Regions from separate parts of the Homo sapiens genome. Here all the other regions are linked to region 2. The links come from fine-mapping of genetic effects on gene expression. A gene starts in region 2. Each other region holds a variant in brackets. All regions are shown on one strand. Distances are from middle to middle.

Evidence for each region.
Region 1: its variant is fine-mapped to the expression of SEC11A in whole blood (INTERVAL, PIP above 0.99).
Region 3: its variant is fine-mapped to the expression of SEC11A in whole blood (INTERVAL, PIP above 0.99).

Annotation. Positions count from the first base shown.
Region 1 is chr15:84,554,707-84,562,982 of GRCh38, forward strand. It overlaps the pseudogene UBE2Q2P1. Among named protein-coding and RNA genes, the nearest start is that of LINC00933, 12 kb to the right of the region's middle. The variant C/G (reference allele first, on the strand shown) is at 3,869.
Region 2 is chr15:84,712,414-84,720,668 of GRCh38, forward strand. SEC11A (SEC11 homolog A, signal peptidase complex subunit) reads right to left here and starts at 3,726. Exons shown (of 6, transcript NM_014300.4): 1 at 3,612-3,726. The coding sequence starts at 3,662. RefSeq lists enhancers at 3,379-3,944, 3,400-3,469, 3,945-4,510, 4,140-4,259, 4,280-4,389 and 1 more.
Region 3 is chr15:84,688,355-84,696,354 of GRCh38, forward strand. SEC11A (SEC11 homolog A, signal peptidase complex subunit) reads right to left here. Exons shown (of 6, transcript NM_014300.4): 2 at 3,181-3,290. Among named protein-coding and RNA genes, the nearest start is that of SEC11A, 24 kb to the right of the region's middle. The variant A/G (reference allele first, on the strand shown) is at 3,304.

The sequences.
Region 1 (8,276 bases), 160 kb before region 2:
ATTTATGGACCCCAGGAATATTCACAACAAAAAGCTGGTGTTAGGGAAAAGGGCAATTGTTTGCCTGCCATACTAAATACCAGCAGTTCCAAAGAATGAAAATGTTATTTTTAGTATCTAAAACAGAACAAACAATTCAATAGGAACAGAAAAACTAACTTCTAAATAAGTTGAATAATTTTTAAAAAATCATCCTAGTTTGACTTTTGTTTGAGACAATTTATTTTAGCTCTTGAACACTACAGAATTTTTACTTTACCTGACCCATGGGTAGTGGTTGATCTGGCATCTCAACATTCGGGTGCTTAGGAAGGTTATATAATCTGCAGAGTCCACATATCAGCCACTTCCATTGCTGATGAAGCTACAAAACACATTTCAGTAAATAAGCATTATGTTAAAGAGCACTGAGAAGACATCAATAATGGTATGACTACTGCAATCAATCCAGTAGGAAATAAAAAAGTTTGTTACTGCTCAACTGCAGCTTACAGATATTTTAAAAAACTCTTTGAAATATTTTCAGGAGCCTCTAGTTTAAGAAAGTTACTATGGCTTGGTGTATAATCACTACAACTGATACCTAATGGAATGACAACAATAAAGGCAGAGGAAGGAAGTTCCAGACATTGTCCAATTTCTCATTGCTACCTTGTTTTCTTAGAAACTTACAACTTCAAACAAGAGAACATTACTGCATTAATGAGGTGACCCAAAAAGGAAAAAGAAAAAAAACCACACACAGGCAGTATTGTTACACATGGATTATAAAATTATATATTCCAGTCATAGTTAAAAGTACAAAAGCAAATGTGATCCAGCAGACAGAGCCTGGAAATCTAGATGACCTTGGATATCATATCTAATTCCTTGAGTTTCAGTGTACTCATCTGTAAAACAAGGAAATGAAAACTTCCCCGGAATAGTAAAGATTAAATGAAACCTGTAAAACACTTGATACTTAGTAGGCTCTTAAGTGTCTGTCTAAAAAATAATCATTCACTAGGAAACTGCAAAAAATAACTGTAAGTTTCCATGTTTAAGTCCAAATTGTATTGTAAGATTGTTTACTTTAAGGAAATAAGCAAGGTAAACTATGTGCACAAGTGTGGTTTTCATTGTTTAAAATGTTTTTTAATGTATAAGGTGACTCATATGGGATCTAATAAGCACTCACTTCACTTGGTCAGGAACAATTTTCTGGGTGTCTCTGACCAAGAAAAGAGATGAAGAGAAAGAAGCAGGTTTACAAATGACAAAGTAAGAAGACACAGGATTAGAATGGGTTAACAAAGCAAAGAATAAGCCTTCCCAAAGTGAACAATGAAGCAAGTGGAAACAGGAAGGTTGAACCGTAAATTAGGATACACCAAAAATCCTCATGCTTAAAAGGAAGCCAAGCCCCAGTGTGGATTCATTATGCACGCAATGTGCTCTGTTTTGTGCTAAGTATATAATGAAGATGAGGCAGGGTGATCTGGACACAGACCTGCACACTCTGACCTCTGGCACAGAAGGGGCTACAGGAGTGCTGGGGTGAAACAGGAATTAAAAGAAATTAAAGAATGTGAAACTACCATCAGAGTGAACAGGCAACCTACAGAATGGGAGAAAATTTTTGCAATCTTCCCCTCTGACAAAGGACTAATATCCAGAATCTACAAAGAACTTAAACAAATTTACAAGAAAAAAATCAAACAACCCCATCAACAGAGACTTCTCAAAAGAAAACATTTATGCAGCCAACAGACACATGAAAAAACACCCATCATCATTGGCCATCAGAGCAATGCAAATCAAAACCACAATGAGATACCATCTCACACCAGTTAGAATGGCAACCATTAAAAAGTCAGGAAACAACAGGCGCTGGAGAGGATGTGGAGAAATAGGAACACTTTTACACTGTTGGTGGAACTGTAAACTAGTTCAACCATTGTGGAAGACAGTGTGGCAATTCCTCAAGGATCTAGAACTAGAAATACCATTTGACCCAGCCATCCCATTACTGGGTATATACCCAAAGGATTATAAATCATGCTGCTATAAAGACACATGCACACATATGTTTAGTGCGGCACTATTCACAATAGCAAAGACTTGGAACCAACCCAAATGTCCATCAATGATAGACTGGATTAAGAAAATGTGGCACATACACACCATGGAATACTATGCAGCCATAAAAAAGGATGAGTTCATGTCCTTTGTAGGGACATGGATGAAGCTGGAAACCATCATTCTCAGCAAACTATCGCAAGGACAGAAAACCAAACACCACATGTTCTCACTCATAGGTGGGAATTGAACAATGAAAACACTTGGACACAGGATGGGGAACATCACGCACTGGGGCCTGTTGTGGGGTGGGGGGAGGGGAGAGGTATACCTAATGTAAATGATGAGTTAATGGGTACAGCATACCAACATGGCACATGTATACATATGTAAAAAACCTCCACATTATGCACATGTATCCCAGAACTTAAAGTATAAAAATAATAATAAAAAAGAATGTGTAAGCAAACACTGTTTGTTAAAAAAAAAAAAACCGAATTCCCCCTAAGAAAGAAAAAGAGGTGGAGTCCTTTAAAAATTAACTGCCTGTTTTTCTGAGGCTAGTGAACCTCATCTCTCCTCCTCTCCCAGGCATTGTGAAGACCCTGTTTCTCTAGCTGTGCAGCTGCAAGGTCACTAGACAGATAAACTCAAGTTGTAAAACATGTTTTTCCTTGAAAAGTAAGAAATAATGTAATGCATGTCTCAACTGAATAACTGTCTTTGTTTCTTGCTTCTGTAATATGCTTCCCCTTGCACAGATCTCCCCCGAACCCACAAAATGCTTAAAAGGTAACCTGACTCTTTGTTCAGGGCTCAGTCCTTTAGATGTTAATTTGACTGGGCCGGTGCACCTAAATAATAATATATATCCTCCTCAACCCCTCAGTCTCTCGGATTCCTAAATTATCCCACTGCAGTGGGAGAGAGGCAGCAGGTTAGTGAGTCATACCAAGCAACAAGAAAGACAGGGTAGTGGCCAGGCACAGTGGCTCACACCTGTAATCCCAGCAATTTGGGAGGCCGAGGTGGGTGGATGACCTGAGGTCAGGAGTTTGAGACCAGCCTGGCCAACATGATGAAACCTCATCTCTACTAAAAATACAAAAATTAGCTGGGCATGGTGGCAGATGCCTGTAATCCCAGCTACTCAGGAGGTTGAGGCACGAGAATCACTTGAACCCAGGAGGTGGAGGTTGCAGTGAGCCAAGATTGTGCCATTGTACTCCAGCCTGGGTGACCAGAGCGAGGCGAGACTTCATTGCAAGAAAAGAAAGAAAGAAGAGAGAGAGAGAGAGAGAGAGAAAGAGAGAAAGAAAGAAAGAAAGACAGGGTAGTACATTTTCCATGAATTTCAATTTTACTCTCTTCGCCACCACGCACACACACAAAAAGCATTTGAGGGATGGGAAGAAGAAACTGAGATCACAGGGAAAATAGTAAGAACATTCAGAAGGACAGGTCTTAGAAATTTACTAGTTTGGGGGGATAAGAGAACAGTAGCATATAAAAGAACGCTAAGACAGTTCCCAGGTTTAGGCATGGGTGACTACTTTGATTATTTCATTTTGTCCCACTCACAATGACAAGGAGAATTATTGATGGAACACATGATGGGGCTGATAGGGTGCTAGGAGGTGGATACATGAAAATTTAAATATCATCTTGAACACCCACGTCATGCCAAGTGAGATTCCCTAACATATATGATATACAGACAGAAATATGGGTATGAAACTCTGGAGATGAATACAGATTTAGGAATCCCTGGAACACAGGTCATGACTTAAGTAATGGGAGTCAAAGACTA[C/G]TCAGAGAAAGCACAGAATGAGAAGAGAAGAAAGAAGTAGGCCAAGGAAGAAGAGCTCGGAGGAGACCAAGGCAGGGTGATAAGATCAAAACAGGAGAAAATAATCTGATAAAAGTCCCAGTTGATTATCACGTCCCTTCCCAGAGGATAGGGAAATACCTTTTTTGTCTTTTATACCCAATTATCACAGGTCCTGGCACAGAAGCCACACAGTCTTTTTTAATTGTGTTCTACTATTCACAGTTCCCTGTATCCAACAGGGGAGAAAAAAGCAAGTATAAACTAGCACAGACATAGATGTTTTTACACTGTATACTAAAGGGGTCAGATTATATATAATATTTTATGCCTTACTTTTTTACTTAATATATCTTAGAAGTTTGCACATGCTCTTATGGAAAGACTGGCTGCATTTTTTTTGGTCTACAACAGAATATTCTATTATAAAACTGTACACTATAATTTTTATTTAACCAACTCTTTATTGGTGGACATTAAGAACGGAGGAATGTTTCAACAAGGGAACAATCAACATTAACAAAATACTGCAGAGGGGTCAATTTGGGGACTAAGAGGGGAGCCACTGGATTTGGCAACTAGGAGATAAATTTTAGCGCAACGATGAAGGCAGAATCCAGAGTATAATGAGCTCAGTGAAAAAAGGTGAAGACATGTAGCTTATTCTCTCAAGAAACTAGGTTATGATAAACTGGCAGAGGCTCTAAGAGTGGGAGGTGAGTTGTTTTCTCCTTCATGTAAATACATTTACTTTTTTAAACACTAGGCCCAAATTTATATCCTACTTCATTTAAGTTTTGAACATGTTTATGTTGTATGTATGTTATGTAATATTTTAGACACTGAAAAAAACCTCATTTCTGCTATTATAAAACTGTTATCTTTAGATATTCAGAAGCAGCTTCCTAAAAGGAGGTAGCAGTAATGGAGCTATGTCTATCATTCTTTCTATCAACCCCCTTGCTGGAGATGTAAACATGTGTCCATCAAGCCTTTAATTTTTACCTCTTATCTTCATGGCTCTCCATACAAAACTTAACTCTATTTTGTATGTGTATGTGTGTTTATATGTATATCTATGTCTAGAAAGAGAGAGAGAGAGAGTCTTGTTATGTTGCCCAGGCTGATCTCAAACTCCTGAGCTCAAGCAATCTTCTCACCTTGGCCTTGAAAGTGCTGGGATTACAGGTGTGAACCACTGTGCCCAGCCTCAGCCTTAACTCTTAAAACATCTTCAAACCAATGTTGTTCCGTTCTAATTTTTAAGAATAGATGTGTTTTAACCTACTACAACTTATTTTGACAAAAATTGAAGTTAAGACTCAAACTTCCTCAAATGGCCAGTTCTCCTAAAACTATTTATAGAATAATCTATCTTTTCACTAGTAAGTTAAAACACCACCTTTTCCTTATACTAAATTCTCATTTGCATGACTCTGGTTTTAAACTTCCATTACCTTTATCTGTCTGGCCCAGGGCTAGTCCACAATATTTTATTTAATATCTGGTTGAAAGAGTTTATACTTTATTATTTTTTATTATTTACTCTTCTAAACAAATTTTAGAGTCATTTTGTCAAGTGCCAAAAATAAATCTGCTGGAATTTCTACTGAAATTTGTATATATACACATACATACACAATTTATATATATAAAATACAAAATGTGTATATATACACACACTTTTTTTTCTTTTTTCTTTTTTTTTGAGACAGGGTCTCACTCTGTCACCTAGGCTGGAGTTCACAGGCATGATCTCGGCTCACTGCAACCTCTGCCTCCCAGGCTCAAGTGATCCTCCCTCCTCAGCCTAATGAGTAGTTGGAACTACAAGTGTGTGCCACAGACACCCAGCTAATTGTCATCTACCCGCCTCAGCTTCCCAAACTGTTTGGATTACAGGTATGAGCCACTGTGCCCAGCAGAAATTACATTTATAAATTAATATGAAGACATGGTGATAACTAACATATTTATAACATGAAATCTGCTCATCCAGGAACATAGAATGCAAATCTTTCATTCCACTCAGCAAAATTTTGTCCTGTCCTTGATAAAAGCCCTGCACATCTAAGTTTATTCCTAGGTATTTAATTTTTGCTGAAATACCTGAAAAAATACTTCATCACTATATCTTCTATGTGATTATAGCTAACATTGGGGAAGGCTATTGATTTTTATATAAAAGAACTTTTAACCAGTAATCTTAAAATTTTTTTTTCAGTTGGTTCCTTTGGATATTTTTAGGTAAACAATCATGTCAACTGAAAATAATGATTGTTATTTTTCTATAAAGACTATGACATCCTGGGAAAATACAGTAAATACTTTTTAAAAGAATATAAAATGGCTGGGCACAGTGGCTCATGCCTGTAATCCCAGCATTTTGGGAGGCCAAGGTGGGCAGATCACGAGGTCAGGAGATCGAGACCATCCTGGCTAACATGGTGAAACCCCATCTCTACTAAAAAATACAAAAAATTAGCCGGGCATGGTGGTGGGCACCTGTAGTCCCAGCTACTGGGGAGGCTGAGGCAGGAGAATGGTGGGAACCCAGGAGGTAGAGCTTGCAGTGAGCTGAGATCATGCCACTGCACTCCAGCCTGGGTGACAGAGTGAGACTCTGTCACAAAAAAAAAAGAAAAAGAATATAAAACTATAGAGAATATGACCTCAACTATTTAAACATATGTATAAGGGTTATGTATTTTACTAGCAAAGAAAAAATATATACTGGCAGAAAATGGCCATCATGTCAACTGTCAATAGTGGTTATATTAGGTAGATAAATTATGGGAGACTTTAATTTTTTTCTTTTCTCTTTTCTGTACTTTACTAATTTTCTCAACAATGGTTGCTTATGAGTTTTATAATTTAAAAAAGGTTTTTAAAATTTTTCCAACATGGAAAGTTGTACTTCTTTATATACTAAAACAAGAACAAAACTTCCTATTTGAATACCTTTGACTTTTACTGCAGACTTACAGACCCTTGAAAGAAAAGGCAATCCCCTCCCACTAGTTCTGGTGTCATTCTCCCCTTCTCTCCTTTCACTTCCACCTTGGTCTTTTTTCTACTTCCCACCTTGGCTAGTGGTCACTACCCAAAATGCTTGCTTGGCTTAATGGTTAGAATTCAGGGAAAAAGAGATCCTGAATTCCTAATCTAAACTAAGGTTATACATGTGGGAAATAATAAAGAGAATCCAGGTAGTAAGTAAGATTGGAAGGACTTAAAATACCCAGACTTTAATTCCTCTAATATTATAGTCATTAATCATGCTTTTGTTTTTATCATATCTTAATATTTAATTTCTAAATATAATGTTCATGAGGAAAAGAGAAAATAGCTTGGCTTCTTTCCTCACTGAATTGTTTTTCTTAGCATCTTCTAGACATTCCAGAACTGATGTCAGATTTGGCTCATCATAGTCCACAAACCATATTGGTAAAGAAAATGAAGAGGATTCCTGTTTAACACAGAGACACCTATGTTAAACATTACATACAGACTAACCCAAATATGCAATTAAACCACACCACTAAATGGCAAGATGACCATGGATTTAAACAAAATGTATGGGGGAAAAGGCAACACATTAAATTCATGTGAGGAGCTGGACTTCTGAAACAGCCATTCTCCTTGCATAGCACTGTCTGCTGCTACAGCTCATAGAAGTCAACAATTTTCTTCAACACTGGTAGGCAGCCTCTAAATGGCCCTGATCACCCTCACCTCCTGCCATTCACACCCTTGTAAAATTCCACCCCTGGACCTAGTGACTCACTTCTAACAAAGAGAATACAGCAAAAGTAATAACATCACTTCTGAGATGAGGCTACAAGGAGACTACGATGCCTGCTTTGGTCACCCTTCTCCTGCTCTTTCCATTGCTCCCTCTGATGGAAGCCAGTTGCCATGTGATGAGGTGCCCTATGGAGAGGCCCACATGGCAAGGTATTGTAAAAGGCCTCTGACCAATAGCCATCTAGAAACGGAGGCCCAGTCCAGCAGCCTCTGAGGTGAATCCTGCCAGTGTGAGCTTGGAGACAGATTCTCTCCCTATCCTGCCTTGGGATGATCACAGCCGCCATCAACACCTTCACTGCCTGGTGAGAGACCAAGCCAGTGAACCCAAGATAAACTGCACAGAATTCTGACCCACAGAAACTGTGAGATAATGTTTGTTGTTTTAAGCTGCTAAATTTGTTACAGAGCAATAGATAACTAATTCAAACAGCATAAAATTCTAATATTTTATTCTATCACACAAACCAAGTAATACCAAAAATGCCATTACTATACATGTATTTTCAGAACACAATTACATGTGATTTTTTTTAAAAGCTAATGAAGTAAGCATTATGTGCTTTCACCCACTAATAGACAT
Region 2 (8,255 bases):
CTTACAAAACTGAAACATACTCTTTTCTTTTTTTTCTTTTTTTTTTTTTTTTGAGATAGAGCCTTGCTCTGTCGCCCAGGCTGGAGTGCAGTGGTGCGATCTGGGCTCACTGCAACCTCTGCCTCCCAGGTTGAAGCAATTCTCCTGCCTCAGCCTCCTGAGTAGCTGGGATTACAGGTGCGCACCACCATGCTCGGCTAATTTTTGTATTTTTAGTAGAGACAGGGTTTCACCATGTTGGCCAGGCTGGTCTTGAACTCCTGAGCTCAGGCAATCCACCTGCTCGGCCTCCCAAAGTGCTGGATTACAGGCATGAGCCACTGCGTCCAGCCTAAAAACTGATTAAAACTCCAAAGAATACATACTCTATGATTCCATTTATATAAAATGCATACCCCTCTATACTGACAAAAAGCACATTAGAGGTGGGACAGAACGGGTCTTGTAGGTGATATATACGTTCTATATCTTGATTGTGATCAGTATACGTAAGTATAAAAACTTATCGGCCGGCCGGGAGCAGTGGCTCACGCCTGTAATCCTAGCATTTTGGAAGGCCGAGGCAGGCGGATCACAAGGTCAGGAGATCAAGACCATGGTGAAACCCTGTCTCTACTAAAAATACAAAAAATTAGCCGGGTGTGGTGGCGGGTGCCTGTAGTCCCAGCTACTTGGGAGGCTGAGGCAGGAGAATGGCGTGAACCTGGGAGGTGGAGCTTGCAGTGAGTCAAGATTGCACTACTGCACTCCAGCCTGGGCAACAGAGTGAGACTCCGTCTCAAAAAAAAAAAAAAAACACTTATCAAATGGTACACTTTAAATGGATGGAGTTCATTTACTAAAGTATTCCTCTGTGGATCTGATAAGAAAAAAAAAACAAAAACTCAAAGCAATCAGACATTTAACATATATGTAATATGTAATTAGGTATAAGCAGAGAAGTTATGCAAATAATAGCAACTTTTAGAGGAATAAAACAAAATTCTAGTTTCCCTCTTTCGTCTGATTCTCAGTATCTACATGTATTGTCAATTCTTCCTCCTAGATATTATGTACAGATAAAGATCTCATTTCATAACTCTCCCTCACCCCATGTTATCCAATCCCTCCTATCCATTCCTAACAACCTCTGGGAGGCCAGGGAGGATAATTTTACCATTTAAACTTCCACTAACCCTGAATGTCCTAGATGCAATGAATTCTGAACCACAATCACTCCATATTAGAGAAACACAGGGCAGAGTAGCCTATTCATTGTATCTTCATGTTTCTGTTCTTTCTTCCTGTCCATTTTATTAGAGCAGGAAGAGTACCTTATATATCTCTATGCTTTAGAGCCTATCTAGCAGGTTTGCAAGTGCTGAGTGAATTCCTTCCCTTTTGATTATTGGAATGCTAACCAACCCAGGTTAAAGATGAAGCTATTAAGGTCTTTCAAGATCCAACTTAAATGCTAGTTTCTCCTTGAAGCTGTTCGTAATGCCCTGACTGGAACCTCTCAAAATTTTCCTACCACTGCTAGAACAGGTCATATCCTTCTTTATCCAAGTGTTCAGGCTTTAAAGTAAGACCTGAGATCAAATCCACATCCTGCCATATACCTTCTTTTTTTTTTTTTTTTTTTTTTGAGACGGAGTCTCACTCTGTCACCAGGCTGGAGTGCGGTGGCACGATCTCAGCTCACTGCAATCTCCACCTCCCAGGCGATTCCCCTGCCTCAGCCTCCTGAGTAGCTGGAACTACAGGCGTGCGCCAACAGGCCCAGCTAGTATCTGTATTTTTAGTAGAGAGGGGGTTTCACCATGTTGGCCAGGATGGTCTCAATCTCTTGACATTGTGATCCGCCTGCCTCAGCCTCCCAAAGTGCTGGGATTACAGGCGTGAGCCACCGCACCCAGTCTACCTTCTGTCTTAAGCAAATCACTAAAGCTCTCTAACAATGACATCGACCACAGTACAGCCAATACTCACCATGTGCCAGACACTCTTCTGAGGGCTTTATATGAATTAACTCATTTAATCTTCATAGCGACCCTACGTTTGCACAACATAGTGAATGCAACTAATGTCAGTGAAGTATACACGTAAAAACGGTTGAAATGGAATATTTTATGTTGCATATCTTTTTACAACAATAAAAGTAAACATAGGCACAGACAGGTTAAGTAATCTGCTCAAAGTCACACAGCCAGTAAGTAGCAGAGCTACTTCAAACCTCTGAAATCTAGCTTTAGAGTCCATATTCTTAACTTCTATACTGTATTGCTTCTCACAAAGTCTCATTTTCTTCATGTTTAATAAGAACAACGTTACCTACCTTACAGGTGTATAAAGTGCTTCACACATGGCAAGAGCTCAAAAAAGTTATTGTTTTGCCTTAGTCCTTTTCTACACATTTAGGCTCCTTGAAGGCCGAGTCTTTCTTAACTATCTTTGCATTTCTCTCATTGTACCTAGCATAGAGTACAATAAATATCAGACTCAAAATAAATACTTTCCTCAGAGAAATATCTGTGGCATCTAGAAATCCAAATATGGATTAAAAAAAGACAACACTATACAAGTAAAAATTTGAAGTGTTGTCATAAAGACATAAAGTAACGTTTGCGCAATTTTTATAGAATGCTCAATTCTGACTGACAGAATTGACACTGAGCTAGCTAAGGCCTGAAGGGGAGTAAGGAAAGGTTGTGTATCTACTTCCCTAAGTGGCAGTTATAAGTACAAAAAATGCAAGTCCAAGGAAAAAAAATCCTTAATGGTGACATCAGGATAATCATAACAGTAAAATACTGTTTAAAACAAAAAAAAAGTCCGATGCAGCAAAACTAGGCTCTACAGACACACTAGGCGCAAAAGATAAAACAGAACAACCTTTTCTAAGGACTAAATAATTACAACAATATTCTCAGTACTATTTGGCATACGATCTAGAAGATCAAAGTAAAGTGTAAGGACAAAATCAGGAGACCTACATTTCCAGATCCCCGTGGCACTGATATTGGACTGTAAAACCATAGATTCCGAGGGCTGCCGCCTTAGTGCTAAGCGGACGCAAGGGCAAGTAGTGTAACTGTTCCAACTCGGAGCCCAGAGTGGTCCAAGTCAAAGTCGGTGCAGCCCGCTACGGTTCAGCTCTACTAAAGGGTTGCAAGGAGCTGAAAGCAGCAAAACGGTTTTTGTGGGGCCTCCAATCGCCTTCCTGAGCGCCCCAGAAACCGGCTAAACCTCGTCTCTCCCGAAACCACCTGGAGTCGCTCCGACTGGAGAAATCAAGAGTCCGCCGCCTTAAAATGACTAAAACAATAAGCAACCCCAACTCCCACTTCAAGCGCGTACGGTTTCCATTTGCTCCCCTGCCTCAGTGGGAGGAATGGAACGTGAAGACACCGCTTCCCGCCCCGCCCCCGGTAGGCCCTGAATCAGTTCGGGGTTAAAAATAATGAGGCGGACAAGGCGGCCTCTGGCCACAGTCTCCAAAGAAAGCGAATGACCCGGGTATCAGACCAGCTCAGACCCTCACACCAGAACCCTGGGGTCCGCCGGGCCCCGCAGCAGCAGCCTCGAAGGGACAAGAAGAGCCAGGAGAAAAAGAGGACGGACAAGCTCACCTGCCGCTTGTTCATCCGCCGCACATCGTCCAAAAAGTCTAGAGACAGCATGGCGGGGACGGCGAGCAGGACACCGGCAGGGGAAAGGGCGCGATGACCAGCGGGCGGAACTACTGGAGCTCGGGTCGGGCTCACACTGGACAGGACCCCGCAGTGCTTGCACTTCCGCTTCCGGGGCGGGAGCTGGCACGGTCGGGCACGGTCCCCGCCCCCCGCGCCCCTTCGCTGCGGAGAGCTGACAGAGAGACTCACGACCTTGCTAGTCCAGTCTCAGGGCTTGGCCTCGCCGTGGGAGGGTTCTCACGCTCTGGCTCTCGCCTGCCAAAAACCGACTGGACGCCACTTCCCGCGCTCGGCCCCGCGGCCCTTCACCGAGGCGGCGACCCAGGCTTAGTTGGGGAGGCTGCTCTGCCACCTTCGGAAGGCGGGCCTCTGTGCCCGCCCGGCCAATCGCGAGCAACCTCTCCGGTGTGGGCGGGTAGAAGCGGTTCCGCGTCCCGGCTTGGGTATGGGTGTGGCAGTGGATGTGTCGTCTGACCGTAGGTTCTCTGGTCGAGCAAGTCTCCTGCGCTATGGGAAGCTGAGGAGGTGCTTTCTTTCTTTCTGTCTCTGTCTCTCTTTCTTTACGTCTCTGTCTCTGTTGAGGTGCTTGCTTGCTTGCTTGCTTACTTTCTGTCTGTCTGTCTCTTTCTCTTTTTCTTTCTCTTTCTCTCTTTCCTTTCTTTCTCACTGTGTCGCCCAGGCTGGAGTGCAGTGGCGCAATCTCAGCTCACTGCAACCTCCGCCTCGCGGGTTCAGGCGATTCTCCTGCCTCAGGCTCCCAAGTAGCTGGGACTACAGGCGCGCGCCACCAAACCTGGCTAATTTTTGTATTTTTAGTAGAGACAGGGTTTCACTATGTTGGCCAGGCTGGTCTCGAACTCTTGAGCTCAGGTGATCCGCCCGCCTTGGCGTCCCAAAGTGCTGGGATTACAGTCGTGAGCCACCGCGCCCGGCCATCGAGGTGCTTTCAATAAGTGCTTTTCGCGTAAGGTTGGACCGTGTGAGAGACCTTCCGAGCACTGCCTGAGCCTGCCAGGAGTTTACAGTCCAATTGGAGAGAAAACAGCCCGGGAGAATTAGAAAACATCCAAATGGTGCAACAGCGTGATGAGACCACCAGTGGTGTGGGTCGTTAGGAAGTGGCTTCCTTTCTGACCTTGACTTTGCTGACAGGATTTGACATGGTCTCCTTGAATTCTACCTCCTGGTTTTCTTAACTTGGACACCTTGAAGTGACTATCTTTTCGCTACCTTTTGCTTTGACTGGCCAAAGCTCCTAATACGCACTTCAGTCAACAAAGACTAAAGCTGGATTACTTGGTATCATTTCTCTCTCTTTTTTTTTTTTTTTTTTTTTTTTCAAAATAATCCTTCTCTCCCATTAGGGAAAGATGAATGAAGGATATACTGGAACTCTTTGTAGTATCCTCGAAATTCTTTAAATGGAAAGTCATTCCAAAATAAAAACTTGAATTTATTGGAGGATGGCTGTAATAAAAAAGACAAATAATAATAAGTTTAGGGGAAGATGTGAAGAAATTGGAACCCTCATATACTGCTGGTGGGAATGTAAAATGGTGCAGCCACTTTGGGAAATAGCTGCAGTTGCTCAAAAGGTTAAAGATGTGCCGTCTGCAGTGGCTCATGCCTGTAATCCCAGCACTTTGGGAGGCTGAGGCAGGCAGATCACCTGAGGTCAGGAGTTCCAGACTAGCCTGGCCAACATGGTGAAAACCCGTCTTTACTAAAGATACAAAAATTAGGCGGGTGTGGTGGTGGGCACCTGTAATCTCAGCTACTGGGGAGGCTGAGGCAGGAGAATCGCTTGAACCCAGGAGGCAGAGTTTGCGGTGAGCCGAGATCGTGCCACTGCACTCCAACCTGGGCGACAAAGTGAGACCCTATCTCAAAACACACAAACAAAAAAAGGTTAAAGATGGAATCACCATATTAACCAGCAATTCCACTGCTAGGTATATACCCAAGAAAATTGAAAACGTTTGTCCACACAAAAACTTGTACATGAATGTTCACAGCAGCATTATTCATAATAGCTAAAAAGTGGAAATAACTGAAATGTTTATCAACTAATGAAGGGATAAATAAATGTGGTATATTGGAATAATGTACTAATAATTCCGCTGGTACAATGGAATATTAATCTGGCAACAAAAGGAAATACTACAACATGAATGACCCTTGAAACAGATTTAGTGAAAGGATCCAGTCACAAAAGACAAAGCATTGCATGATTCCATTTAGGTGAAATATCTAGAATAGACAAATCCACAGAGATGGAAATCAGTGGTTGCCTAGGGCTGGGAGAGTTGGGGAAAATGGGGAGTGGCTGCTAATGGGTATGGAGTTTCTTTTAGGGGATGCTAGTTCTACAACTATGTGAATATACTCAAAACCATTAAATTGTACACTTTACACTGGTGAATTGTATGGTATGTGTATTATATCACAATAAAGCTATTATGAGAAAGAAAAAGAAACCACTGGTGTCTGGCTCACTGTTAAATTCCTAGTGGTGAACACATAGCCTAGCACATGTTATACCCAATAAATACTTGTTGAATTTAAAAGTGTGTGTGTGTGTGTGTGTGTATTTTTGTCACCTCCAAAAACTGCTGCCTCTAGGCACCCCACACTTATTGAGTTGAAAAAAAATTCCTAATTTATCCAATTTAGGAAGACTTGTGGAAGAAAATACATGTGAACTCCATGAGGACAGGGACATTGTCTTGTCCACCCCTTTATCTCCAGCTTCCATAAGAGTACCAGACATGTAGCAGACACTCAATAAGTATTTGTTAATAAATGTTAAATATGGGTTCTAGTCTAAATTCTCGCTAGTAGAACCCTTGGCCTATGCCTATTAATGTTGAATTCAAATCTAAAAGTGAGCGCCAGCAACTATTTAAATGAGTATCAATCTTGTAATGTGTAGAAAAGAGCCCTAAGAGAGGCGTAAAGTCCTGTGGAGTTTCAGATGTGGCAAAAGTCAGTTCAGTTGGGGAGGCTTGTGGGGAGCTTAAAAAGGGTGTCAGGCCAGGCACGGTGGCTCACGCCTGTAATCCCAGCACTTTGAGAAGCCAAGGGGGAAAGATCCCTTTGGCCCAGGAGTTCAAGACCAGCCTGGACAACAAAGTGAGACCTCTGCTCTACTAAAACTAAAAATTAGGCCAGGCACGGTGGCTCATGTCTGTAATCCCAGCACTTTGGGAGGCCGAGGCAGATGGATCACCTGAGGTCGAGTTTGAGACCAGCCTGGCCAACATGGTGAAACCCCGTCTCTACTAAAAATACAAAACTTAGCCAGGCATGGTGGCAGGTGCCTGTAGTCCCAGCTACTCGGAGGCTGAGGCAGGAAAATCGCTTGATCCCGGGGGGCAGAGGTTGCAGTGAGCCAAGATCACACCATTGCATTCCAGCCTGAGCAATGGAGTGAGACTCTGTCTTAAAAAAAAAAAGAATGCATGAGAAAGGAACGGGACCAGGGGAGAGTGATATAAACTAGGAGGATCTGCAAAGGCTTAATGAGGTTTCTTATACTGCTCGGTGTCTCTTATGAAAATAATTCAGATATTTAGGACAGGTGATCCCAGACTTGATATAAAGCCTAAGGAATTCAATTTTCCAAATGTGGGACTCTGACATGCTATTTTCTCTGCCGACTGGGATGGCAATCTTTCTGACACATAAGTCTTTTGGGCCCTGTCAATCACAGTGTTATGTCTGGCATTTTCCTTTACAGAGAGCCTGCTGGCCCCCCTGAAGGAAGCATCTTAGTATAGAAGTTAAGTTAGACCCACTTGGCTTTGAATCACAGATCAATTGCCAGCTGTTTGATCTTGGACCAATTAGTTAACTCTTTTTCCAAAAAAATTTATTTAATTTAATGTTTCTACAGACAGAGTCTCACTCTGTCACCCAGGCTGGAGTGCAGTGATGTGATCACCCTTCACTGAAGCCTAGACCACTGAAGCCTAGATTGCTCAAGCAATCCTCCCACTCAGCCTCCCAAGTAGCTGGGACTGCAGGCGCATGCCACCATGCCCAACTCAGTTAGCAATTTTTTAATCCCTAGTTTTCTGGTGTGTAAAGTAGGAATAGAAAAGAATTTATGTCATTTGAGGATTTAACAAAATAGTACATGTAAATAAGGCTGTTGGGGGCTGGGCATGGTGGCTGACGCCTGTAATCCCAATACTTTGAGAGGCCAAGGTGGGCAGATTACTCGAGCCCAGGAGTTCGAGACCAACCTGGGCAACATAGTGGAAGCCTCATCTCTACAGAAAATTTTAAAAATTAGCCAGGTGTGGGGACACATGCCTGTAGTTCCAGCTACTCGGGAGGCTGAGTCAGGAGGATCGATTGAGTCCTGAAAGTTGATCCCTTAGTGAGCCATAATTGTGCTACTGCACTCCAGTCTTGGCGACAAAGAGAGACTCTATCTCAAAAAATAAATAAAATAAATAAATAAATAAATAAAGCTGTTGTCACAATGGATGACAAATGGTAAGTGGACAAAGAATTTAATAATTATTCAAAACAAGAAGTGGGTTCAAACTGATACACAAATTCTAGGCTAGGAAG
Region 3 (8,000 bases), 24 kb before region 2:
AGATTTTTGCCTAAGAATTTCCGAAGCCAGGAAAAGATTCAATTCCATGGTAACAAGTAAGACTAACTTCTACAGAGTATCTTCTTACCTCTTACCTCTTCCATCCTACGCCAAGTGCTGAAAAGGTCCTAAGATATTTGCACTAATTTATGAACCCCTTTTTATCTATAAAGAAGTAGCCCATCAGTCTTTTTCAGAAACTCAAGCTCCGGTTTTCTATAACAACAGCTTAAGTAAGAATAGAAAGACAAGAAATAAAGTTCAACGCAGGAATAAGTACAAACTCCAAACACTTTTGTTTAAAGACTCTCTTCCCTCTATGTAAAGGGATATGGCAGTGGGTCTCAAATTTTGCTGCACATTGGAATGACCTGAGGGACTTTTAAAAAATCTCAGCCAGGTGCGGTGGCTCACACCTGTAATTCCAGCACTTCGGGAGGCCGAGGTGGGCAGGTGACCTGAGGTCAGGAGTTCGTGACCAGCCTGATCAACACAGTGAAACCCAGTCTCAACTAAAAATACAAAAATTAGGTGAGCATGGTGGCGCACGCCTGTAATCCCAGCTACTCAGGAGGCTGACGCAGAAGAATCACTTGAACCCAGGAGGTGGAGGTTGAATGGGCTGAGATTGCGCCATTGCACTCCAGCCTGGGCAATACAGTGAGACTCTGTCTCAAAAAAAAAAAAAAAAGAAGAAGAAGAAAAGAAAAAAAAGAAAAGAAAAGAAACTGGGGGCCAGGCACGATGGTTCAAGCCTATCATCCCAGCACTTGGGAGGTTGAGGGGGGAGGATCACTTGAGATCAGGAGTTCAAGACTCAGTCTCTGTAAAAAAAAAATTAGCCAAGTGTGATGGCACACTCCAGTCTGGGCGATGGAGGGAGGCCCTGTGTTAAATGTTCTTATCACAAAAAAATAGAAAGGGAAGAAACTTTTGAAAGTGATGAATATATTCACTTGCTTGATTGTGATGATGGTTTCACAGGAATATACTTACCTGCAAATTGATCAAGTTGTATACATTAAATATGTACAGCTTTTTGTATGTCAATCATATCTCGATAATTTGGTTAAAAAAGAGTAATCTAAGTACTATTACTTAGGTTCTAGATAATGTTAATGCACTATTATTTAGATTCTAGATAATATTAATAATTCCATTTATTTTAAATATGCACTCCATTATCTCCAGAAAAGATCTGGGCTTACAAAATTAAGCCCAAAATATGACAAAACTGTAATGTTTCTTTTCTTTCTTTTTTTTTTTTTTTTTGAGACAAAATTTCAATTGTCACCCAGGCTGGAGTGCAATGGAGCGATCTCCGCTCACTGCAATCTCCGCCTCCTAGGTTCAAGCAATTCTCCTGCCTCAGCCTCCTGAGTAGCTGGGACTACAGGCGCCTGCCACCACGCCCAGCTAATTTTTGTATTTTTAGTAGAGATGGGGTTTCAACATGCTGGCCAGGCTGGTCTCGAACTCCTAGCCTCAAGTGATCTGCCCGCCTTGGCCTTCCAAAGTGCTGGGATTACAGGTGTGAGCCACCACACCCAGCCTATAATGTTTCAGTCAAACAACCAAGTGGTAATTCTCTAAAAATGAGTTACTAAATTAGGTTTTAAAATCACTAAGAGTGGTTGCGCATGGTGGCTCATGCTTGTAATCCCAGCATGTTGGGAGGCCAAGGTGGGAGGATCCTTGAACCCAGGAGTTCAAGACCAGACTGGGCAACACAGTGAGATCCTATCTGCTACGGTTTGGCTGTGTCCCCACCCAAATCTCATCTTGAATTCCCACGTGTTTTGGGAGGGACCCAGCAGGAGGTAACTGAATCATGGGGCAGGTTTTTCCTGTGCTGTTCTAGTAACAGTGAATAAGTCTCACGAGATCTGATGGTTTTAAAAAGGGGAGTTCCCCTGCAAAAGCTCTCTTCTCTTGTCTGCCGCCATGTGAGACCTGCCTTTCACCTTCTGCCATGATTGTGGGGCCTCCCCAGTCACGTGGAACTGTAAGTCCAGTAAACCTCTTTCTTTCGTAAATTGCCCAGTCTTGGGTACGTCTTTATCAGCAGCATGAAAATGGACTAATACACCGTCTCTACAAAAAAATTAAAAAATTAACCAGGCATGGTGGGGCAGGCCTGCAGTCCCACCTGCTCAGGAGGCTAAAATGGAAGGATCCCTTGAGACCGGTAGGTGGAGTCTGCAGTGAGTTATGACGGCGCCACTGCACTCTATCCTGGGTAACAGAGCGAGACCCCATCTTTAAAAAAAATATTCACTAAGAGTATGAGTGCAAAGATAGGGAAGGAAGCAGAGTGGAGAAAAAAAATTCAGTACTATTTGTCACCATAAGAGATGGTATTAATGCCTTCAAAATTCCTGGAGTCTAGTTTAGAAGTGATATTTAAAGGTCAGCAGGAAACTTGGAAATAATTAGTGATGATTCTATCCTGACATTGAGAACATGCTACAGAAAAACTCTTAATTTGTGGAAGTACTATAACATCTAATGAACTAACAACTAAATATCAGGCCTGGTGTATCAAAATGAGGAATATAAAAAGACAGAAGAATTTCAGGAAAATAAAGTACAACGAGACACTTTATTAAGGGATGTGACAAAAACAAACCTTAACATGGTAACTTTTTTGTAGAAAGGTCATGAGCCCTTTGGAGTTCTGAATGGAAATGCCTAACAAAGTAAGAATTTCTTTTCTCTCTTTTTTTTTTTTTTTTTGGAGACAGGGTCTCGCTCTGTCACCCAGGCTGAAGTGCAGTGGTGCAATCACAACTCACTGCAGGCCTCAACCTCTAGGGCTTAGGTGATCCTCCCACCTCAGCCTCCCGAGTAGCTGAGACTACAGGTCCATGCCACCACACCCGCTAATTTTTGTATTTTTTGTGGAGACAGGGTTTCACCACGTTGCCCAAGCTAGTCTCAAATTCCATAGCTCAAGTAATCCACCGGCCTCAGCATCCCAAATTGGTGGGATTACAGGCATAAGCCACCGTGCCCAGCCTGAGAATTTCTTACAACTGATAAGTAGTGACTAATTTTCTTCCAGGCCCTTTTCTGGAAAAGAGTAGTTTCTAAGAGAATGATATGCCAGTTATTTCATATCTCAATTTTTCTCCCAAGTAATGCCATGCAATTCCATGCCTTGAAAGGAAAAACTGTTACCTGAGCACCACTACAATCGGACTTTCACTTCCAGTTATTACCATTAACCCCTTCCAGATCATTAGTGCCGATGAGACAATCATTCCAAAATTTAGGACTTGATAATAGAGCTGCAAGAACAAA[A/G]CAGAAGAGATCAGATCCACCATTATCCCCACTTCGGAAAGCAACTGAAAGCAGTAACAATTTGAAAGTTTCAAGCAGTACTATTAGGACAACTACAGTTCTGAGACATTCTTTAATACATTATAATAATTATGCCATCAGCAGATCAAAACAGGCCCCCCTTCTTTCACCCAAAGCACCCTGCTCCATTTTGTTTGGTAAAACATCAGTTACATTTATATAACACCATATTATTTTAAGAACATTTCACACAAGTTATTTCATTTGGGCTCCATAATCATTCAGCTTAAATTTATCACTCATGCTACTTACCAGCCAAGAGTAATCTGTCTCTGCTTCTGAACTCCTCTATTACTTTTTCTTTTTCTTTTTTTTTTTTTTTTTGAGATGGAGCCTCGCTCTTGCTCAGTCACCCAGGCTGGAGTACAGTGGTGCCATCTCAGCTCACTGCAACCTCTGTCTCCTGGGTTCAAGAAATTCTCCTGCCTCAGCCTCCCGAGTCGCTGGGACTACAGGCATGCGTCATCACGCCCAGCTAATTTTTTTGAATTTTTAGTAGAAACTGGGTTTCACCATGTTGATCAGGCTGGTCTCGAACTCTTGACCTCAAATGATCTGCCCACCTCCACCTCCTAAAGGGCTGGGATTACAGGCGTGAGTCACCACACCCGGCCCTCTATTACTTTTCTACTATACTTATCCCTTGATAATCATGGGAATAGTTAATGACATTTAACTCTACCTTCTCATTTTACAGTTAAGGAAACTGTCTCGAAAAGAGGAGACTTCACCAAGTCCTAAGCTTATCAGTCACATAGTCAAGACTTGAAGGTCAGCCTTCTTACTAAATTTCCAGTACTCCAACAAACTCTAAAATTCTGTGACTTGAATAAACAGATAAAACACCAGACGGCATTTCAATTTCAAATAAAGAAAATTCAGAACACGTGGAAAAAGGCAAAAAATATTACAAAATCAGATAAGATAAATAATGTGAGCTAACTGTTTTGGGCCAAGGCTGGAAAAAGTATAGAGAGGATGACTAGACACCATGGCAAATAGTTCAAGGAAAAAGCTGGTACTGGAAAGTACTGGGAGAAATCTGAAAAAGCATATATTAAGGTCCAACTATGAAGAAACTTAAACACAGGACTGAAACTGTGGATCTAACAAAATATTAGTAATATAAAGTGAAAAAACAGAAGTTTCAAAAGGTCTTACTCTGTTGCCCAGGCTGGAGTGCAGTGGCACAATCACAGCTCACTGCAGCCTCCAACTCCTGGGCTCAAGCAATCCTCCCACTTCAGCCTCCCGAGTAGCCAGACGTGGTAATTTTTGTATGTTTTGTAGGGATGAGGTTTCGCCATATTGCCCAGGCTGATCTTGAACTCCTGGGCTCAAGCAATCCGCCTACTTCAGCCTCCCAAAGGGCTGGGATTACAGGTATGAGCCACCATGCCTGGTCACTTTTGTTAATATTTGCTTGTGGACATTCTACACAACTGTCCTAGTCTCTTCAAAAATCCAATGTCATTCAATGTCATGGAAAAAAAGGTGGAAGACTGTTCTAGATTAAAAAGTACTAAAGAGATATAACAACCAAATGTAACGCACAAACTTTGGTTTCTTTGTTGTTTTTTTCTTCTCATTCAGTTCTAATAATGCACAAACTTTGGCTGGATCTTGGTTCAAAAAAAAAAAAGCATAAGAAAAAATCTGAATATTTTGGGGTGAACTGGGGAAACTCAAAATATGATTTGAATATTAAATGACATTAGGAAATTCATGTTTTCTTTTTTTCTCTTCTTTTTTTTTTTTGAGACAGGGTCTTGCTCTATCACACAGGCTGGAGTGCAGTGACATGATCTCAGCTCACTGCAACCTCTACCTCCCAAGTTCAAGTGATTCTCGTGCCATAGCCTCCCAAGTAGCTGGGATTACAATGGGCATGCATCATCACGCCCGGCCAATTTTTGTATTTTTAGTAGAGACGGGGTTTCACCATGCTGGCCAGACTGGTCTCAAACTCCTGGCCTCAAGCAATCCACCCGCCTTGACGTCCCAAAGTGCTGGGATGACAGATGTGAGCCACTGTACCCGGCCTCTAATTTTCTTAAATTATGTGATAATGGTGTTGTGGTTATGTGGAATACTATCCTTATCACAGGAGATGCATATTAGTAGTAGTTAGCTAGTAGTTGTAGTTAGGGGTGAATTCTCATATCTGCAACTCATTTTCAAGTGATTCAGCAAAAGAAAATTCTATATATGCACACACACATAAGTATACATAGAACAAATATGGCCAAAATGCTAATAATTGTTGGATCTGTGTGACAGATTACAGGTGTTCCCTGTACTGTTTTTTCAATTTTTTCTGAAAAATTCCAAAAAATGCATAGAAAATATGGAAGAAGCCAGGTGCAGTGGCTCACATCTGTAATCCCAGCAATTTGGGAGGCTGAGGTGGGTGGATCACTTGAGGCCAGAAGTAGGAGACCAGCCTGGCCAACATGGCGAAACCCCATCTCTACTAAAAACACAAAAATTAGCTGGGTGTGGTGGGACATGCCTGTAATCCCAGCTACTCAAAAGGCTGAAGCACAAGAATCACTTGAACCCAGGAGGCGGGGGTTGCAGTAAGCTGAGATCGCACCACTGCACTCCAGCCTGGGCAACTGAGCAAGACTCTCTCAAAAAAAAAAAGGAAGAAAATAAAATAAATGTTAGTTGTTATATTTGGGGGTGTAATACTAGGCAATTCTTATTTATTTCATTTTGATCATCTACATTTTCTACTTCCCTTTTTAAATCAATTGTTATTTTTAATCAAAACAGTATACACACATACATACAAGAATATGTAAAAAAAAGCAATATCCTAGCCATGGCAGGCCACCTACATCAACCATTTTCATCTCTTCTAGCTATTCATTCTGGTGTTTACCCCAACCACTCTAAAAACTGTTTGTTTACTTTCATACTAGGGTGTTAATGCATGATGTTCAAAATGTACAATGAGGGGCTAGGCACAGAGACTCATGCCTGTAATCCCAACACTTTGGGAGGCTGAGGTGGGAGGATCACTTGAGCCTAGGAGTTCGAGACCAGAAAGCAAGACCTTTATCTCTACAAAAAAAAATACAAAAAAAGGCCGAGTGCAGTGGCTCACGCCTGTAATCCCAGCACTTTGAGAGGCCGAGGCAGGCGGATCACGAGGTCAGGAGTTTAAGACCAGCCTGGCCAACATGGTGAAACCCCATCTCTACTAAAAATACAAAAATTAGCCAGGCGCAGTGGCGTGTGCCTGTAATTCCAGCTACTCGGGAGGCTGAGGCAGGAGAATTGCTTGAACCCGGGAGGTAGAGGTTGCAGTGAGCTGAGATCGCACCATTGCATTCCAGCCTGGGCGACACAGCAAGACTCCATCTAAAAAAAAAAAAAAAAAAAAAAAAAAAAAGAAGGTAGAGGAAAATTTAGCACACTAAATAGAGATGCGGATGATTAAAAAAAAATATCCAGAGGCTGGGCTCGGTGGCTCACGCATGTAATCCCAGCACTTTGGGAGGCCAAGGCGAGCAGATCACCTGAGGTTGGGAGTTCGAGACTAGCCTGCCCAACATGGAGAAACCCCCATGTCTACTAAAAATACAAAATTAGCTGGGCTTGGTGGCACATGCCTGTAATCTCAGATACTCGGGAGGCTGAGGTGGGAGAATCGCTTGAACCTGGGAGGCGGAGGTTGCAGTGGGCCGAGATCGCACCATTGCACTCCAGCCTGGGCAACAAGGGCGAAACTCCGTCTCAAAAAAAAAAAAAGAAAAATTAGCTGGGTGTGGTGGTGCATGCCTGTAGTCCCAGCTCCTTGGAGGCTGAGGCAGGAGAATCACTTGAACCCAGGACGTAAAGGCTGCAGTGAGCTATGATTGCCCCACTGCATTCTAGCCCAGGTGCCAGAGCAAGACTGTGTCTCAAAAAATAAATACAATTGTGATGAGGAATCCAGCTCTCTTGTACCATTTTCTATTTTCTCCCTACAATTAACCTGTTTTTCCTGCATACTTTTTAAAAACATTTCAAGTTTCATATTCTTCACACTTGATCTTAGCCAAAAGGCCGAGAAGCGATCAAGTTTCATATTCTTATAAATGCACAGTTAATCTCTGAAAAGACAGACAAGAAACTGGAGAAAAGGAACCAGGAGTCAAGGTGGAAGAAAAATATTTTCTGATATACATACTTCATGTTTTTACAGTTTTTACTATATGCAAGTATCACCTGTTCAAAACTAAACTGTTTTGGTTTATTTTTTTAAGTCCACGCTAATGGCCAGAACACTATTCTTCTAGCATTCCAATGAAGCACGGTGTACTCAATCAATGTAATTAATCAATTTCCACAAAAGGAAATATGAACATTTTCGCCGAGACAATTAGAAATATTTGCTGTTCTTTCAGTAATAGAGTGATGTGAGCACATGGATAATCTGAAACCTACTTTGACACTCACATTTACAGGTAAGGAAACTGAGGCACAGAGAAGCTAAGCGACATGCTCATGGCTGCTTGTCTACTGGCTGGCAGAGTAGCACTATTAGAACTCTGGCCTCCTAAATTCTATGTTTTCAAGATGGTGGCTTTTTAAAAGACAAAATGGGTCTTCTTATTCTGAAGGCTGAATTGAAGACGTGGAGTGGG